2 separate regions of the Homo sapiens genome follow, and region 2 is linked to region 1. Evidence: fine-mapped expression QTL. Tissue or cell type: whole blood. Region 1 holds a variant in brackets; the other region holds the start of a gene. All regions are shown on one strand. Distances are between the middles of the regions.

Evidence for each region. PIP is the estimated chance that this variant, and not a neighbour inherited with it, causes the effect.
Region 2: TANGO2 starts here. The variant in region 1 is fine-mapped to the expression of TANGO2 in whole blood (TOPMed, PIP 0.99).

What each region holds. Positions count from the first base shown.
Region 1 is chr22:20,045,010-20,055,287 of GRCh38, forward strand. TANGO2 (transport and golgi organization 2 homolog) reads left to right here. Exons shown (of 9, transcript NM_152906.7): 4 at 7,456-7,575; 5 at 8,428-8,542. Among named protein-coding and RNA genes, the nearest start is that of MIR185, 17 kb to the left of the region's middle. The variant A/G (reference allele first, on the strand shown) is at 5,960.
Region 2 is chr22:20,016,352-20,025,358 of GRCh38, forward strand. It overlaps TANGO2 (transport and golgi organization 2 homolog), which reads left to right and starts at 4,759. Exons shown (of 9, transcript NM_152906.7): 1 at 4,759-4,895. ARVCF (ARVCF delta catenin family member) reads right to left here and starts at 472. Exons shown (of 20, transcript NM_001670.3): 1 at 238-472. RefSeq lists silencers at 364-763, 4,522-4,911 and enhancers at 5,512-5,561, 6,880-7,019.

The DNA.
Region 1 (10,278 bases):
GGGTGACCATATCACTAAGGCCCACATCCTCTCACTCTCTGGCGTCACCGGATTGTATGCAAAAGTTTAGGACAGTGGTTCTCCAGGTGTGGTCCTTGGGCCTGTAGCACCAGCTTTACTTGAGAACTTGTTAGAAATGAAATCACCCTGGGCCGGTGGCTCACACCTGTAATCTCAGCACTTTGGGAGTCCAAGGCAGGAGGATCCCTTGAGGCCAGGAGCTTGAGACCGGCCTGGGCAACGTAGTGAGTCCCTGTCTTTACAAAAAAAAAAAAAAAAATTAGCCAGCTGTGGTGGCATATGCCTGTTGTCCCAGTTACTCAGGAGGCTGAGGTGGGAGGATCGCCTGAGCCTGGAAGGTAGAAGCTGCAGTGAACCGAGACTGAGCCACTGCAGTTAGCCTAGGCAACAGAGTGAGACCCTGTCTGAAAAAAAAGAAAAGAAATGCAAATCAAAATCATTAAATTCATAAAAATTTGGCCATCACTTCTTTTTTTTTTTTTTTTTTTTTGAGATGGAATTTTGCTCTTGTTGCCCAGGCTGGAGTGCAATGGTGCCATCTCAGCTCACCGCAACCTCCATCTCCCGGGTTCAAGCTGTTCTCCTGCTTCAGCCTTCCTAATAGCTGGGATTACAGGCATGCACCACCACACCAGGCTAATTTTGTATTTTTAGTAGAGATGGGGTTTCTCCATGTTGGTCAGGCTGGCCTTGAACTCCCGACCTCAGGTGATCCGCCCGCCTTGTCCTCCCAAAGTGCTGGGATTAGAAGCATGAGCCATTGCACCCAGCGGCCATTACTTTTTCAAGTAGTTTTTCTGTCTTCTCTCTCACTCTCTCCTTCTCTCCAGTTACACACATATATTAGTTCACTTGCCCTTGTCCCACACCTCTGCGATGCTCTCTGCGTACTTTTCTCGGTGCCCCTAGATCTTGAGGTTTTCCAGCCTGGTGTCTGGGAGCCAGCCCTACTCCCTGCCCTGTGTGAGCACTGGTGGTTCTTGCCCCAGTGTCATATAGTCTCCTCCCTGAGATGCTGATCAGACATTCTCTGTGTAGCTCCTTCCTCTCTGGACTTTTGTGCCACTGTCTTAGTTCGTTTGTGTTGCTCTAAAGGAAAAAGCTGAGTCTGGGTAATTTTTTTCTTTTTTTTTGAGATAGGGTCTCACTCTGTTGCCCAGGCTGGAGTGCAGTGGCACAATCCTGTCTCACTGCAGCCTCTAACTCCTGGCCTCAAGTGATCCTCCCACCTCAGCCTCCCTAGTAGCTGGGACTACAAGTGCACATCACCATGCCCAGCTAATTTTTAAAAATAATTTGTAGCGACAAAGCCTTGCTGTGTTGCACAAGCTGGTTTCAAAGTCCTGGCCTGAAGTGACCCTCCTTTCTTGGCCTCCGAAAGTGCTGGGATTACAGATAATAAGCCATGGTGCCCAGCCAAGGCTGGGTAATTTTTTTTTTTTTTTTTTTTTTGAGACAGAGTCTTGCTCTGTCGCTTAGGCTGGAGTGCAATGGTGCGACCTTGGCTCACTGCAACCTCCACCTCCCAGGTTCAAGTGATTCTCCTGCCTCAGCCTCCTGAGTAGCTGGGATTACAGGCACCTGCCACCACACCCTGCTAATTTTTGTATTTTTGTATTTTTTTATTATTATTCTTTAAGTTCTAGGGTACATGTGCAGAACGTGCAGGTTTGTTACATAGGTATACATACATGTGCCATGTTGGTTTGCTGCACCCATCAACTCATCATTTACATTGGGTATTTCTCCTAACGCTATCCTTCCCCCAGCCCAATTTTTGTATTTTTAGTAGAGATGGGGTTTCACCAGGTTGGCTGGGCTGGTCTCAAACTCCTGACCTCAAGTGATCCACAAGGCTGGGTAATTTATAAAGAAAAGAGGTTTATTTGGCTTAGAGTTCTACAGGGGACCTGAAGCACAGTGTCAGCATCTGCTTCTGATGCAGGCCTCAGGAAGCTTCTACTGATGGTGGAAGGGGAAGGGGAGGTGGTATGTGCAGATCACACACGGAGGGAGGAAGCCAGAGAGAGGGAGGAGGCGCCACGCTCTTTTAAACAACCAGTTCTCAAAGGAACTAATAGAGCTAGAACTCATCACTGTGAGGACAACACCAAGCCGTTCATGAAGGATCTGCCATTAGGTAGATCTGTCTCCCATTAGACCCCACCTCCAACACTGGGGATCAGTTTTTTGGTTTGTTTGTTTTTTTTTTTTTTTTTTGAGACAGAGTTTCACTCTTGTTGCCCAGGCTGGAGTGCAATGGCACGATCTCGGCTCACCACAAGCTCCGCCTCCAAGGTTCAAGCAATTCTCCTGCCTCAGCCTCCTGAGTAGCTGGGATTACAGGCGCCTGCCACCATGCCCAGCTAATTTTTTGTGTTTTTAGTAGAGACGGGGTTTCACCATGTTGGTCAGGCTGGTCTCGAACTCTTGACCTCAGGCAATCCACCCGCCTCAGCCTCCCAAAATGCTGAGATTAGAGGCGTGAGCCACCTCACCCAGCCCGGGGATCAGATTTTAACATGAGGTCTGGGGGACAAACATCCAAACTATGGCAGCCATGAACTCTGGTTGTCTTAGTTTCCCCAAACACTAAGCCCCTCTTCTCAGCTCAGGGAGTCTGCTGAATTCGGCCTGGTCCCCCCACTCCCTGGGCTGGGTCCTGGAGCCTCTCTAATCATGGGCTCACTTTGTTTCCTGTCTGTCATATCCTTTTTTGTAAAACCCATTTGATATGGTTTGGCTGTGTCTCCACCCAAATCTCATCTTGAATTATAGTTCCCCAAATCCCCACATGTCCTGGGAGAGACCCAGTGGGAGGTAATTGAATCATGGGGCATTACCCCCATGCTGCTATTCTCATGATAGTGAGTTCTCATGAGATCTGATAGTGTTTTGTTTTTTTTTTTTTGAGACTGAGTTTCGCTCTTGTTACCCAGGCTGGAGTGCAATGGTGCGATCTCGGCTCACTGCAACCTCCACCTCCCAGGTTCAAGCAATTCTCCTGCCTCAGCCTCCTGAGTAGCTGGAATTACAGCCGCTTGCCACCACGCCCAGCTAATTTTTGTATTTTTAGTAGAGATGGGGTTTCACCATGTTGGCCAGGCTGGTCTCGAACTCCTGACCTCAGGTGATCCGCCTGCCTCGGCCTTCCGAAGTGCTGACATTACAGGCATGAGCTGCCGCTCCCAGCCAAGATCTGATGGTTTTATAAGGGGCTTTTCCTGCTTTGCTTGGAACTTCTCCTTCCTGCCACCATGTGAAGAAGGACATGTTTGCTTCCCCTTCTGCCATGATTGTAAGTTTCCTGAGGCCTCCCCAGCCATGCTGAACTATGAGTCACATATCTTTCCTTTATAAATTACCCAGTCTCGGGTATGTCCTTGTAGCAGCATGAGAATGGACTAATAAATACACCATTGTTTCTTGAGTTTTATTTATTTATTTATTTTTTGGTTGTTTTATGCAGGAGGGTAAATCTGGTCCTTGTTGCTTGGGCAATTTGGAAGTTTTGTTCTTGTTTTAATTATTGATTTGTAAGAGTTATTTACCCATTCTGGATATGAGTCCTTTGTGCCTACTCATTTCCTTAATGATAGCTTATGGTGAGCAGAATTTTTTTTTTTTCTTTTGAGTGGGTGGAGTCTTACTCTGTTGCCAGGCTGGAGTACAGTGGTGCGATCTCAGCTCACTGCAACCTCCGCCTCCCAGGTTCAAGTGATTCTTCTGCCTCAGCCTCCTGAGTAGCTGGGACTACAAGCATGCACCACCATGCCCAGCTAATTTTTGTATTTTTAGTAGAGATGGGGTTTCACCATGTTGGCCAGGATGGGCTCAATCTCTTGACCTCTTGATCTGCCTGCCTTGGCCTCCCAAAGTGGTAGGATTACAGGCGTGAGCCACTGCGCCCGGCCAGAATATTTCATTTTAACAAAGTACAGTTTATCTTATCTTTTATGAGTTGTTCTTTTTGTGCCTTATCCAAAAAGTCTTTGCCTACCCAGAGGAAAATATATAACAATATTTTCCTCCATTTGCTTCTAGAAGCCTAATTTTTGTTTTTATGTTTGGTCTATGATTTATCTCAAGGTTTTGTACATGGTGTGAGGTAGGGGTTGAGATTTACTGCCTCCAACCCCCAAATCTCTCTAGTTGTTCCAGCATCATTTATTAAATGGATTATCTTTTGCCTAGTTCATTACTATGGCAACTTGGTTGTACATCAGTTGAACATATATGTGTGGGTCTATTCCTGACTCTGTTGTATCCCATTGATCTATGTATCTGTCTTGATGCCAACACCATGCAGTCTATGAGTGCTGCTGCTTTTTAGTAAGTCTTGAAATCAGGCTGAGCACTGTGGCTCACACCTGTAATCCCAGCACTTTGGGAGACCGAGGTGGGCAGATCACCTGAGGTTGGGAGTTCAAGACCAGCCTGACCAACATGGAGAAACCCCGTCTCTACTAAAAATACAAAATTAGCTGGGTGTGGTGGTCCATGCCTGTAATCCCAGCTACTCGGGAGGCTGAGGCAGGAGAATCACTTGAACCCGGGAGGCGGAGGTTGCGGTGAGCTGAGATCACGCCATTGCACTCCAGCCTGGGTAACAAGAGCGAAACTCTGTCTCAAAAAAAAAAAAAAAAAGAAAAAAGAAATCAGGCAATGTGGGTCTGCCTTCTTTTTCGGGACTATTTTGGCCATCCCAGTTCCTTTGCATATGCATAGATATTTCAGCCAGTCTGTTAATTGCTATAAAACGAAAAGCCCCCTGGGATTTTGACTGGGCAGGTTTTGAATCTATGGGTCATGTGGGGAGAAGTGTCACCTTAACAATACTGAGTTGTCTAAGAAGTACCCAGTGAAACAAATAATAACAAGAAGAAACACTGTTGAGGCTGGGCACGGTGGCTCACGCCTGTAATTCCAGCACTTTGGAAGGCCGAGGCGGGCCGATCATGAGATCAGGAGACCGAGACCATCTTGGCTAACACGGTGAAACCCTGTCTCTACTAAAAAAATATGAAAAAATTAGCTAGGTGTGGTGGTGGGCACCTGTAGTCCCAGCTACTTGGGAGGCTGAGGCAGGAGAATGGCCTGAACCCGGGAGGCGGAGCTTGCAGTGAACTGAGATCACACCACTGCACTCCAGCCTAGGCGACAGAGCAAGACTCTAAAAAACAAAAACAAACAAAAAAACACTATTGAATCTTTCAGTGAATATGCATGTCTCTCCTTAAATCAGGTCAGCTCAACTTGAGACCCTCAACAGTGCCCTGGAGTTTTCAGTCTTTGTCACTCATTTTTCATTAAATATTTTCCTGGTGGTTTTTTTTTTTTTTTTTTTTTTTGAGACGGAGTCTTGGTCTGTTGCCCAGGCTAGAGTGCAATGGCGCCATCTCTGCTCATTGCAACCTCCACCTCCCGGGTTCCAGCAATTCTCCTGTCTCAGCCTCCCGAGTAGCTGGAACTACAGGTGCCTGCCACCATGCCCAGCTAATTTTTGTATTTTTAGTAGAGATGGGGTTTCATCATATTGGCCAGGCTGGTCTCGAACTCCTGACCTCGTGATCCGCCCGCCTTGGCCTCCCAAAGTGCTGGGATTACAGGCGTGAGCCACTGCACCCGGCTTTTTTTTTTTTTTTTAATCACACTAAGGATTTTAAAAATGCTGTTATAAATGGTATATTTAAATGCTCACTTTCCAGTTCTTGCTAGCATTTACTTATTAGTTCTAATACATCGGTTTTGGTATTCCTTTTGGGTTTTCTTCATATATGATCCTGCTGGTTGCAAATACAGTTTTGTTGGGTTTTTTTTTTTTTTTTGAGACAGAGTTTCGCTGAGAGTGCAATGGTGTGATCTCGGCTCACTGCAACCTCCACCTCCCGGGTTCAAGCAATTCCCCTGCCTCAGCCCCCCGAGTAGCTGGGATTAT[A/G]GGCTGCCTCAGCCTCCTAAGTAGTTGGGATTACAGGCATGCACCACCACGCCTGGCTAATTTTGTATCTTTAATAGAAATGGTGTTTCTCCATGTTGGTCAGGCTGGTCTTGAACTCCCAACCTCAGGTGATCTGCCCGCCTCGGCCTCCCAAAGGGCTGGGATTACAGGTGTGAGTCACCGCACGGGGCCACAAATACAGTTTTATTTCTTTATTTTTGATCTTTACATCTTTTCTTTTTCTGTTATAATTAATTATTGTTATAAAAATAATATCTTAGGGCCAGGCACGGTGGCTCACACCTGTAATCCCAGCACTTTGGGACGCCAAGGCGGACGGATCACCTGAGGTTGGGAATTCGAGACCAGCCTGGCCAACATGGAGAAACTCCGTTTCTACTAAAAATACAAAATTAGCCAGGTGTGATGGCACATGCCTGTAATTCCAGCTACTCAGGAGGCTGAGGCAGGAGAATCGCTTGAACCCAGGAGGGAGAGGTTGCAGTGAGCCGAGAGCACACCATTGCACTCCAGCCTGGGCAACAAGAGCGAAACTCTGTCTCAAAAAGTAATAATAACAATAATAAATAAAATAACATCCTAGCCAGTGCAGTGGCTCACTCCTGTAATCCCAGCACTTTGGGAGGCTGAGTCGGGAGGATCGCTTGAGCCCAGGAGTTCGAGACAAGCCTGGGCAACACAGCAAAACTTTGTCTGTACAAAAAAATGCAAAAATCAGCCGAGTGTGATGGTACCTGCCTGTGGTCCCAGCTACTTGGGCTGAGGTGGGAGGATCGCTTGAGCCTGGGAGGTGGAGGTTGCAGTGAACTGTGTGATTGCCACTGAACTCCAGCTTGGGTGACAGAGTGAGACTCTGTCTCAAAAAAATAAAAAATGAAATAAAATAATAAAAATAACATCTTAATGACAGCCTTTTTTGCCCCAATCTTTGGGTAAAATGACCCCCTGGTCTAAGAAGGAGCCCTCCTGTGGCTTTCAGAGCCCTCCAACCTTGTGGCATTAGCAGTGGCCCATGCCCTGCAGATTTGGCGGGGGTGAAGGTCCTGGTTGTGTGCTGGGCTCCTAGTGAAGGGCCTGCCCTTTGGGCCTGGTGCATCCTGCTGGGTGAGGACAGCCAGCGTCCCTGCACCCCATTCATGCGATTGGAGCCTAGTGCTGCCCCTCAGCCTTGACGCTGGCCCAAGTGGAAGGATGTGTTCTGCAGGGCATCTGTTGGGATAGGTGTGGTTGGTGTCATAGTTGTCCTGCAGGACAGGGATCTCACTTGCACGACCCATGAACCCCAGGGGCTGCCTGGCCTTGAAGAGTTCCAGCCACGATTCCATAGCTGGGGCTGCTGGGCCAAGCCGCATGTCGAACGTCCTCGAGGAGCTTGAGGCAGGAGCTGGGCCGAGTATGCGTCTCCCAGGGCTGGGAACCAGGTGGGGGACTGGAATGGGTGGCATCAATGGTGGTAACACTGTCATCTGCCACAGGGCTGGACATGGAGGAAGGCAAGGAAGGAGGCACATGGCTGGGCATCAGCACACGTGGCAAGCTGGCAGCACTCACCAACTACCTGCAGCCGCAGCTGGACTGGCAGGCCCGAGGGCGAGGTAAGGCGAGTGGGGTGGGGCCAAGGTGAGACAGGGTGGGGTGGGGCAGGCCTAGGTGAGACAAGGTGGGGCCAAGGGACTACAGGACTGGCCAATGTATGGTGGAGTGGGGCGGGCCAAGGTAGGAAGTGCCAAGGTGCTTGTGCTTGGGAGTGGGATGGGGCAGGGCTGAGGTACCGTGGGGCAGGGCCAGGTTACAGAGTGGGCGGTGACAAAGCGTGGCAGGGCAGGGCCCAGGTAAGGGTGGGGACAAGAAGGGGGAAGCTGGGCCCCGTGGCAGGTGGGTGGCTTCCGTGGGCATATCACTGCCGCCACTGAGGTGTGCTGCAGGGGTATGCGGCAGAGACAGGAAGAGTGAGGAGGGGAGCATCCCATTTCCCACACCCTGGCCCTCTGGCGTCGCAGCCAGGAGCCCACTCCCACCTGACCCACGCAGCACTGTTTACTCCTCTCAGGGCGCACTCTCCCCTTGTCCTCATGCATGGCACTCCTGACTGCTGTGTCACTGTCCCCTGCCTGGAATGTTTGTAGAGTAGATGCCTTCCCCGAGACGACAGCTCTGTGGACACACATTGTCCCCACTGAAAGGTGTTGTTTACTTCATGCTGGATTTCCATAGGAAGACATAGTGGGGAAATTTTTTTTTTAATAAAATGAGCAGTTTTCAGTGCCGACCTGAGTGGCAGCCAGGCTAATGAGGTGTGGCTGACTCTTGCGGCAGTCATGACAGGCCAGGGCTCCAGTGGGACCCCTCATCTTCCTGCATCCTCCCCAGGGGGCCCCATATCAGTGTTCCTGGGAGAAGAGCACATGCCTGCAGCTGTGGACACAGCATCTGTCCCCTGCCTACAGGTGAACTTGTCACCCACTTTCTGACCACTGACGTGGACAGCTTGTCCTACCTGAAGAAGGTCTCTATGGAGGGCCATCTGTACAATGGCTTCAACCTCATAGCAGCCGACCTGAGGTGGGTCTGCCAGAGGGGGATGGCGGCTCTGCCCAGCACTGCCTCGGGGGCAGGCCTCAGGCTCATCAGGAAGTGGGGTTCCACTGGGGGCTGTGGCAGCCTCTCCAGGGACGTTGCTCCTCGTGACTTGGCAAACATTCTGAGGACTGAGCCTGTCACAGATGTACCAACTCGGGTATTTGGGGGTGAAGCCCAAGGCTTCCTGTGATGGCATGAGGGCTGCCGGATCCCTGGAGAAAGCTGAGGCTGTGAAGAACAGTCACATAGAGTGGCTCTGGCCGGGTGTCCTCCCTCCCACGGGCAGGCTGTGCAGAGCAGCCCTCCGCAGCCCTGGCTTGGAGTGACTGGGATGCTGTGCTCCCAGGGAAGCTCCTGTTGGAGATGAGGCCGCAGGAACTGCGGAGGTTTTGGTGTTTTGCCCTTCCGTGAAGTGAGCATTCCTCCCTCCTGCCCTCCTCCCCCTCCAAAGCCCCAGAACTTGGCCAATGCTGTTAGTCCGGGGCCTTCTGCCAGGACAGGCAAACGGGAAGTGGTCGGCACATTGTGGCGGGCCCTGAAGCTGCCTCCTTCCACAAGGGCAGGTCCATGGGCCTCTCTCCTGGCTCCCGAGCTCCAGGCCTGCTGTTCGTTGAGCATCCCTTGTGTGTGGCATGCCCAGCCCTGCCCCACATGGGTCTGCACACTTGCTATGGAGGCTGGGAGAGTTGCAGTGTCCCCTAGGTGGAAGGCCGAGGGCTGGTGCGGGGCACTTGCTGTCCGGAGCCGTTCTTCCTGCCCATGCCTTCGTGACTCCAGGTGGCAGAGCCCCTGTGCTCTCTGCATGCCCCCATGCTCAGGAACCACTTTTCCCGGTCAGTAGTTCCATGTGGGTCTGATTAGTCTCAGGAGAGTTCCTCTGCGGCCGTGGCACCAGCAGGACTTGGCACTCAGCAGCTGTGTGGAGGTGGGGTGCCAAGGGTGCCATGCCTTGAGCAGATACACGGGCTCCTGTGGTTGGGGGTTGGGGGTTTGGGCTCCTCAGAGCCTGTGCAACTCTCCCGGCTCCAAAGGCTGCAGAGTGAGGGTCAGCCTCCTGGACCTAGCCTGAGGATACAGGCAGTGGCCAGGAGAGCATACCACAGGTCAGGCAAAAGCTGGTGCCAGGGCCGAGGCTGGAGGGCGGGGGCATCGGAGGTCAGTGAGCAGCCCTGCTGGTAGGTGCAGATGAGGAAGCCAAGGCCTGGAAGGGAGAGAGGCTTGTCATGGCCACAGCTATCCCTGGGTGAGGCCTGCCCTCCGCCTGGCCTGTGGTATAGTGCTGGCAGCATGGGTGTCCAGTTCTGTAGGTCCTTACACAGAAAGCCCAGAGGAGATTTTTGCCTGCAAACAGTCTCTGAAATTATGAACCAAGTATCTTAGGAAAGTTGCCAAAGACCATGGTGAGGAAGAACGGGAGTGGAATGTGAACATAGACGGGGGGGCCCTTGAAGCCTACCAGGGGTGGGGAAGGTGGGTCCCACCTGGGGGCAGCACTTCGGGGAGGAAGGCACCATGCCTGGCTCTTTCTCTGCATCTGTTCCATCTTGAAGGCCCAGGGCTCCATGCCCAGCATCTGGCCTGGGAGGGCATCTCACAGGCCACAAAGAGATCCTCTTCACTTTGCAAAAAAGGCACTCCAAGTTCTAGAAGACTTACTGTGGTATTGAGGATTGGAATATTTTCAGCTGGGGAGCATTTTGAACTATTTTCTTTTTAAA
Region 2 (9,007 bases), 29 kb before region 1:
GCCCCCGCCGGCCCGGGGTCTCGGACGCCGCAGAGCGCGCGGACAAGACGCGGGTGGGGCGGAGATTGGCTCCGACGTCCGGCCCAGACCCTCGCCCGGATCTCGACTCCAGGGATAGGACCCTGTCCGGACCGCTGCCCGGAATGCGTCCCATATCTGCAGCCCCGCCCCCAGTCCCGGCTCCGACCCGAGGCCCCAGCCCCGGGTCCCACACCCCGCCCACTGGCTCAGGCTTACCTGGAGCGCAGCGTGGGCGGCCCCGCAGCGCGGCCTCGGACCCCAGAAGGGCTTCCCCGGGTCCGTTGGCGCGCGGGGAGCGGCGTTCCCAGGGCGCGGCGCGGTGCGGCGCGGCGCGGGTCGCAGTCCACGCGGCCGCAACTCGGACCGGTGCGGGGGCCGCCCCCTCCCTCCAGGCCCAGCGCGCAACCCGAGACCCCGGGCCAGCCCTCCCGCCCTCACGCGGCCCGTGCGCAAAGCGGACCGGGCCGGCGACGCGAATCTCCGCCCCGCCCCATCTGACAGCAAATTTTCCCATTGGTCGAGAGACCCGGCGCGGCACGGCAACCGGCGCCGATTGGGCGGATGCGCGGAGATGACGGCTTGCCATTGGGCCTCCGGGATGTCAGTCCCGGCGGATGACCGGCCCCCTCGCGGAGGGGCCGCGGCCCCGCACCTGCCCGAACCTCTGCGGCGGCGGTGGCAGGGTACGCGGGACCGCTCCCTCCCAGCCGACTTACGAGAACATCCCCCGACCATCCAGCCCCGAGCAGGGACTGGCAGAGCCGGCGCCCCTTCCCCGGACTCTGGCCGCGTAGCCTCCGCCACCACTCCCAGTTCACAGGTATCCTTCTTCAGCGCCTGCTACTCGCTGCGCGCTGCGCGCCGCTCCCTCCTGTCGACATCGAATTGTATTCTTCACGCAAGCCGCGAGAGAGAGTTCTGCTGCTATCCCCATTTTACAGTTGGGAAACAGCCTCAGAGAGGTTCTCACTTGCTTGAACACAGTCGTCTGACCCTGGGGCCTGGGGGCTCTCTCATCCTCACGCCCCTGGGTCCCCGCAGCGGGGAGACGATGGAGGTAGGAGCTGCAGTATTTCCGAGGGCAGGAAGGGACCCCCTCGGTAAACCAGGGGCTCACCTCCCCCACCAGGCCTGGATGTAGAGACCTCTTGGGCTTGTCCCACCCTGCAGGCCCCCCATGGGGCCGCCCTTTCTTACCTCCTCCTGGCATTCTCACAGCCCCACAGCTCTGCGTCTGGGGAGGCAGAGTTGTGCGTTTATGCCCGCACCCCGTACTACTGTCCCATTTTCTTCACCCTACCTGGAGTCAGGAAGAAACGGTGCTTCACTGCCTGTTGAGATTCACGTAGGTTACATTTCCTTGCCAGATTAAGAGCACCTGACATGAGTGGGACCATGACCCTCCGCCAGCTCTGCGTAACCTTGTGGTGTAGGGGGGAACCAGCAGGGATGCTGCCCAGTGGGCTTTTCTAGGGGGAGGTCCTGAGATGACTTCTTAGCCAGTGACCCTGGCTCACGCATGCTGTCATCCTTTCCTGCCCTGGATGCACCTGGAGATGACCAGTTCCTCGGCTCATTGCATTCTCCAAGGCCGCCTGGGGAACCAAACTGCCCACAACCATGCTTATGAGTGGTGGAGGGGTGTGACCAGACACTCTTGTCTTATCCACCCATATTGGGAGTCCAGTGTGTTCATCCAATCATTCCTTGGCCAGGACAAAGAAAATGAAATGGCCCAAGGCAAGAACTCACTGCTGGGACCACCGCTGGGTCCATCTGTGTGCTGGCAGCATGGTGAATCGATCCCAGCTGCCTTTCAGAGCCAGGCAGCTACTATCAATCGATTGGAGCTGGCACTTGACGTGCCAATTGGCCTCCTGGCATAGGGTTGTTGCTTGCTGCTCTGGGAGGGCAGAATGAAGTAGCTGTCCCTAGAATAGGGGCCCTCACAAACCAGGTAGCTGTCATCCTGTGGAGCAGCACCATGGTGACATTCTGGCTCAGGTGCTGTGTAGCTGAGGGGTCGTTTCCTCCATTTAGGAGTAGACGTAATGAGTCCAGCTGTCCCCAGCCATCTCTTCAAGGCCATTGGACCCTGGTTCTGCTGGAGCCCCTCTTCTCACAGTTACCTCATAGTCCTGCACCACCCCCTCCCCACACTTGCAAGAGGGACTGGACAGACCTCTGTTGAAAGAGTGCAAAAGACAGAACCATACACCAAAATCTGTGCAAGTGAGACTACCTCTCCTCTCATCACCACCCCTACCACCCATAGGGTTGCAGAGACCTGTCTGCCCTCGGCAGGCAGGATCATTAGCTGAGGTCAGAGGATGTCGGGGCAGCACCAATTCAAACAGGACTCAGGACCGCTGTCCAGCAGTCGGCCCATTAGGCTGCAGCCAGGGGTCAGAAACACAACAAGGGAGGCTGGGCGCAGTGGCTCATGCCTGTAATCCCAGCACTTTGGGAGGCCAAGGCAGGCAAATCACCAGAGGTCAGGAGTTCGAGACCAGCCTGGCCAACATAGCAAAACCCCATCTCTACTAAAAGAATACAAAAAAAAGTAGCGGGGCATGGTGGTAGACGCCCATAGTCCCAGCTACTTGGGAGGCTGAGGCAGGAGATCGCTTGAACCTGGGAGGCGGAGGTTGCAGTGAGCTGAAATTGCACCACCGCACGGCAGCCTAGGAGACAGAGCGAGACTCCATCTCAAAAAAAAGGAAAAAAGAAAAAGATAAGAAAAACACAGCAAGGGAGACCACAGGGACCAGTAGCCCAGTGTTCTCCCTCTCTCATCCTCTCACCTAGCTCCATGCGGACAGCTGTGAGGCCCCCGGAGAAAGCCACAGAGAGAAAATGCTTTCAGCTGGGTGTCAAGAACTTTTCAAGAGTGGCAGCTGTTGAAATCAAAAGAGTGGCCACAGAAGGTAGTGAGCTTCCTATCTGAGTTTGTGTGCAATTAGAGGTTGGATGCCAGTGAGCCTGTTGCAGCCCCAAGATCCCAGGGCTTAGGTGCCCATCCTAGACCCATTTCATCTGCCGTCACCTGCTTCCTGGCATCGCATGTCATCCAGACTGGAGTGTCAGTGGTGACAAAGAAGATCAGAGTGTCTGCTCTGGCTCTGTCTAGCTGGGAAAAGTATGGCTGGGGGTGGGGATGGCCCAAGGCCACAAGGTATGACAGAACAGGATGCAAACCACCATCTGACATGTTACTGCATCCCTCTTTGTGGGCAAAGGGAAACCTTGGTCAACTCATGTCCAGCTTTGAGGTGCATGGCCTGGTGCTTTGGGGAAGCCCATTCTCCAGGTGCTGCCATGAACCCCAGGGCACAGTCCATCACCCCCAAGCCCCAGATCCCACTTGTCCACCACCACCACCTCTTGGCCCTATAGATTGCATAGGTTTGGCTGCTCAGAGGGAAATCACTGGTACCAGCCCCACATGATCCCACTGCTGGATGGTGGGAGAGACAACCATGTCTGGCTGGGTCTGCGGCCCGCTGGCCATGAGTCCCTGGGCATCTGGAGTCCTTGTAAAAGGTTCTGTTGGGTTCCAGGGGAAACACAGATAAGATAGCAAAAGTGTGGAGCACAACGGGCCCGCATGTAGGTCCAGGTTAGACTCTTGCCGTTGCTGATTACCAGCCAGGCTCTTCCCATCCCTGAGCCCCAGTTTTCTGCAGGGCATCAGGGCACCTAGGTCTTCAACACAGGTTGAAGCTAATGTGGCCTCTCTTGCTTGCCACCTTTTTCAACTTCAACTGAATGACATAACTGCTCCAAGTCTCAGTGTTTACATCTATAAAGTGGGATGAAAGAACTGCTGACCCAGACATTGGGTTTAGAGTGCTTTACACATTATCATTATCCCTAATGTCTTTGTCATCCATGTCATAGTTTTTTGAATGCTCACTTTGAGGCAGGGCCTGAGCCTCTGGGCTTTGACTCTCCACCTTTCTGCCACATAGGCCCAGGCACAGCCCAGAGGCTACAGGAGCAGCGGTCCCAGCTAATGCCTCTGTCCTGTTGGGAGGGCCCCAGTCAGTGCCCACCTGCTCACCCTGCACAAGTCAAGCTGGGCCAGCCCCTCGTCGCTGGGGCCTGGACCTGGATGTGAGCTCAAAGGCTACACTGGGGGGTGGAAGTGGGGGAGGTGGTGGGTGTGCAGGGTATAGTGCTCAAATGCCTAGTCCAGGGTCTGGGGGTACATACTGGGAATGGCAGGGACATCAGGGAGGAAAGAGCCGACCTGGAGGCCATAAAGTGAAGGAAGGGATGACCAAGAGGAAGATGGCCAGGTCCAGAGGTGGGGTTGAGTGAACAGGATGGGGAGACCAGGACGCAGTCTGAGGGGGCCAGTCCGGAAGTGAGCATTCCTGTACCTCTTCCGAGAGAGGCCGCAGGGTGAGCAGGTGACAGATGGTGTCCATGAGGGCATGGACTCAGGGGCGGCTGCGACCTCCCATGGCGTCCCTGCAGGCAGGGAGCCGCGGAGTCCCCGAAGGCCGCTGGATCAGGAAGCGCTCAGACGCCCGCGCAGCCCGAAGCTTTGGCGCAGCCCCGGGGGCGGGGCGCCAGGAGGTGGCAGCCTCCGAGCGACAGCGCGCCCAGCCAACGGGACGCCGGCATGCGGCGCGCCGCCCCGCCCCTCGCTGCGCGGCCCAATGGTGAACGCGCCGGCTTCGGGCTGGGCGGTACTGGGCTGGCTGCGGTGGCGCGCGGGCGCGGCACCCGGAAGTCGGCGGCGGTGGCGGAGGCGGTGAGTGCGCGGCTCCGGGGCTGGCCGACTCCGCTAGTGGCCCGGCCGGCCTGGGCTCGGGGGCTCCGGGCTCTGGGCTCTGGGTGCGCGGACCGGGCCAGGCTGCTTGAAGGTGGGTGGGCTGGCCGCACTTCCTCACCCTGCCTCAGTTTCCCCTTTCTGAGGTATGGTATAGAATCAGGCGGCTGGGTCAGGGGCAACCACGTCGATCCCGGCCGACGAAAATGCCCCGCGCGTTACTGGAAGGTGTTTTTGATAATCCCCGCTGGCACGGGATGCGAGGGACTCTGGCAGGTGGGACCAGACTCGCTGCGGGGAGGCTGAGATCGGCAGGGTTGGGAGCTGCGTGGTCCCTGCAGGGTGTGTGGGCTGCTCGGCCTTGGCCAGCATCAGGGACAGCTCTGGCGCCCGGTCACTCTGCCCCCTACCCGCGGCCTGCTGCGGGCCAGCAGGGTGACAGCTAATGTGGGTGTGAGTAGATAGTAAGTGCTGGGTCATCCCTGCGCCTGGATGCGGCCTTCCTGGGGAGGTTTGGGTAGTTAGATCCCCCACCCCCAACTCCAGAGCGTCAGAGGTAGGGGCTGGCAGGGCTGCACTCAGGGCAGTCCTTGCCCCACCGCTGGGCTTTGTAGCAGCCTGGGCTTTGCCCGTTTTCCTCTAGGAAGTGGGCACAGAGGGCTGTTTGCTGAGACCCCCACCTTCCCTGCCCCTAGCACCTCTCCTGTGCTCCCTTGGCTTCCTGCTGGACCACAAGCTTTAGAGTGAACCGTCTGCCCTTGGACAAGTCCCTGGGCCTCAGGCCCCCTTCCTCTTCAGGAATGTCACATGCCCTGCCCTGGCCAGGCCTGTTTGCACTGTCGTGTGGCTCTAGACCTGCTGACCACTGTTTTGCTGCCACTCTGGGCACAGTGCCCTCTTCCATGAGGCAGATGTGACGGCAGCTATAAGGGGGTAGCTGAGTAGCTCTTTGGAAGGCTTTCTCACGCTAGCTCATTTGCCTCTGGGCAGCCTTTTGGGGCAAGCATTCATTGATCCAGTCCTGCTCATACAAGGAAAACTCAGGCTAAGGTGGCAGATCGTGTTCCCAAGGTCATTCAGAGCCAGGGCCTGCTCCCAGTGCCTCTACTACTCCTGGGCCACTCTCTTAGGAGTGTCCCTGTGTCTGTGTCCTGCGTCTGTGTTGGGTGGGCTGGGAGCAGCTGGAGAGGGTGACCATGTTGTTAGATGGACACAGCAGAGCCTCTGTTCCCACAGGATCCTAGTGCTCTGGTGGTCCAGGGTAGGGTGCCCTGGTGCCCCCACCCCCTTTGACCCCTACACAGCTTTGTGTTACTTGCATGTCCTCAGACTGCAGGCCCCTCAGACCAAGCCCCTGCCTGCTGTGATGTGTGGTGGCCATAGCCCTTCCCTGAGCTAAGGTGACCAGCTGTCAGCTCTTCCTGGGCTGCCCAGCCTCTTGTGCTTCCTTGGTCTTCACTTGTGGGCTGTCATTCTGATTACGTTTTGCAGTGTGTGGAATCACGTGCAGTGTCCTGGGAACTTGATCCTGTGCCCGGCTTCTGCGCCAGACGGCGAACTTGGAGGGCACCCCGGTGCCCACCCAAGGGTGCTGCTTCTGAAAACACCCACAGGGATATGAGGGGCTTCTCAGGGACCCCAGAAGGGGTCTGGAGAGAAATGGCCCGGGATAGGGAGGCTGGGAAGACTTCTCGAAGTAGGGCCATGCTTGTCATTGACACTCCAGATGCATGAGAAGCAGGGCCCATCCTTTGGTGACGTGTCAGTCAGCACATGGCAGCAGCATGGCAGAGCCTGGCCTTTGTTGGCCCCTACCATAGGGCTTGGGCTGTCTTGAAAACAAGCCTATCCCTACCATGAGGATGGGCTCCGTGAAAACAAGGTCACCCCAGAAAGACTGAGCTGCTTTTTGAGGTTATCACAGCTTTTTCCCCTTTTTCTCTCAACTTCCCTTTTAGACTGCAAAAATAGTTTATGCATGCTTAAAGATAAAAAAGGCTGGCCTCCTTCTCCCAGCGGCTGCTCCCCTGGTGCACTTGCTGACATTTGGGGGTACATCCATTGAGATCTTCAGTGCCATGCTAACTTGAAACTTGAAGTGCTTGCCTTCATCCTCTTTGCGGGCATGGTAGGAGTGCCCCCCTTTTTTTTTGTTTTTACTAACCACTCAGGCCGCAGGGGCCGCTGCGAGGCTGGCCTGTCCCTGGCTTGTGAGGAAGCTGAGTGTTCCTCCCAGGAGGGCCTGAGGATGGGGCCACCCTGTGTCCAGAGCTTGCTGTCTGCTCACGATGCCTCTTGTTTGTGCTATTCCTTGGAACTGGGAAGAGACAGTGATCCTCTGGTGTGAGGCTGAAGAAATGCCCCGGAAGCATTGTGAAGATCTGAGGAGAGAGTACCACTGTAGAAAATGTGTCATGATAGGCCAAGCACGGTGGCTCACGCCTGTAATCCCAGCAGTTTGGGAGGCCGAGGCGGGTGGATCACGAGGCCAGGAGATCGAGACCATCCTGGCTAACACGGTGAAACCCCGTCTCTACTAAAAATACAAAAAAATTAGCCGGACGTGGTGGTGGCAGGCACCTGTAGTCCCAGCTACTCGGGAGGCTGAGGCAGGAGAATGGCGTGAACCCAGGAGGCAGAGCTTGCAGTGAGCCGGGATCGTGCCACTGCACTCCAGCCTGGGCAACAGAGCGAAACTCCATCTCAAAAAAAAAAAAAGAAAATGTGTCATAATAAAATGCCATTTAGGCCCGGCACGGTGGCTCACACCTATAATCCCAGCACTTTGGGAGGCCGAGACAGGTGGATCACCTGAGGTCAGGAGTTCGAGATCAGCCTGGCCAACATAGTGAAACCCCGTCCCTACTAAAAACAAAATACAAAAATTTGCTGGGCATGGTGGCAGGTGCCTGTAATCCCAACTACTCGAAAGGCTGAGGCAGGAGAATTGCTTGAACCCAGGAGGCGAACGTTGCAGTGAGAGAGGTCACCCTCTCCAGCTGCCCCCAGCCCACCCAACAGGACCATTGCACTCCAGCCTGGGCGACAAGAGCAAAACTCCATCTAAAAATAAAAATAAAAAATGCCATTTAATAGCCAGAGAGTGTAAACTGGTGAGCTCTTGCTGCGGAGATAGGAGGGAGCAGGGCATTGCAGTGGACTGGAGACTCAGAGGGTTTCCTGACGTCAGGACTTTCTTCGCCCAGGCCCCGTGAACAGCGACACTGTGTTCCCACGTGTGTTTACCTCCTCTGCTGACAGCCACCGGGAGCCCGCGTCACATGTCTGTGTCTGCCTTTGAAAAGAGCAACTCGTGCTTTCAAGCTCTGCCCCTGGGGGCTGCCACCGCTGATGGAGTGGGGATTACAAGGGATGGGGATTGGGCGCCCGGCTGCTCAGCCCTGCAGCACCAGCCCTTGTGGCCATTGAGGCCATTAAATGGGGGCAGCAGACTGTAGGGCTTAGTCACCCTCTGTTCAGGGACTCACCATGTGCAGCCCCAATAGGAGCCCGACTTGATGGCTACCCTCCCAAGTGTCTAGGTCCCCTTGACCCTGTGGTACTAATAGCTTGCCATTCCTCTGTCACCACTGCTTTCTGCTTAGCACACATCCCCTCTGCCCATGTGCTATGCTTGCCTTTTCGCTTGCCAAAGGGAAGTGGTTCCGCCAAAAGCGTGTGTCCCATCCCCTCTGGCCCCCAGGGTCTCCAGGTGTGGTGTTGCTGCGACAGCCCAGCTACACCCCGTCCTATGCAGAGCTGTCTTGCACCAGGGCTGATTGGGTCTTCTCTTGCTTTCTGTGAACAAGTGACTCTTGGGTTCTTGCCCTTCCTTCCCTCTCTTCCCTGCCCATAGAAATGTCCCAGCCCTGGCAGGGAAGGAGGGCAGGATCTGTACATTTTCTTTTTTTTTGCGTTTTGAGACAGAGTCTTGCTTTGTCACCTCAAAAGGCTGAGGCAGGAGAATCGCTTGAATACCGGAGGCAGAGGTTGCAGTGACCTGAGATCGTGCCACTGCAACCTCTGCCTCTCAGGTTCAATGCGATTCTCCTGCCTCAGCCTCCTGAGTAGCTGGGATTACAGGCGTGCATCACCACGCCCTGCTAATTTTTGTGTTTTTAGTAGAGACGGGGTTTCACCATTTTAGCCAGGCTGGTCTTGAACTCCTGACCTCAGGTGATCCACCCACCTCGGCCTCCCAAAGTG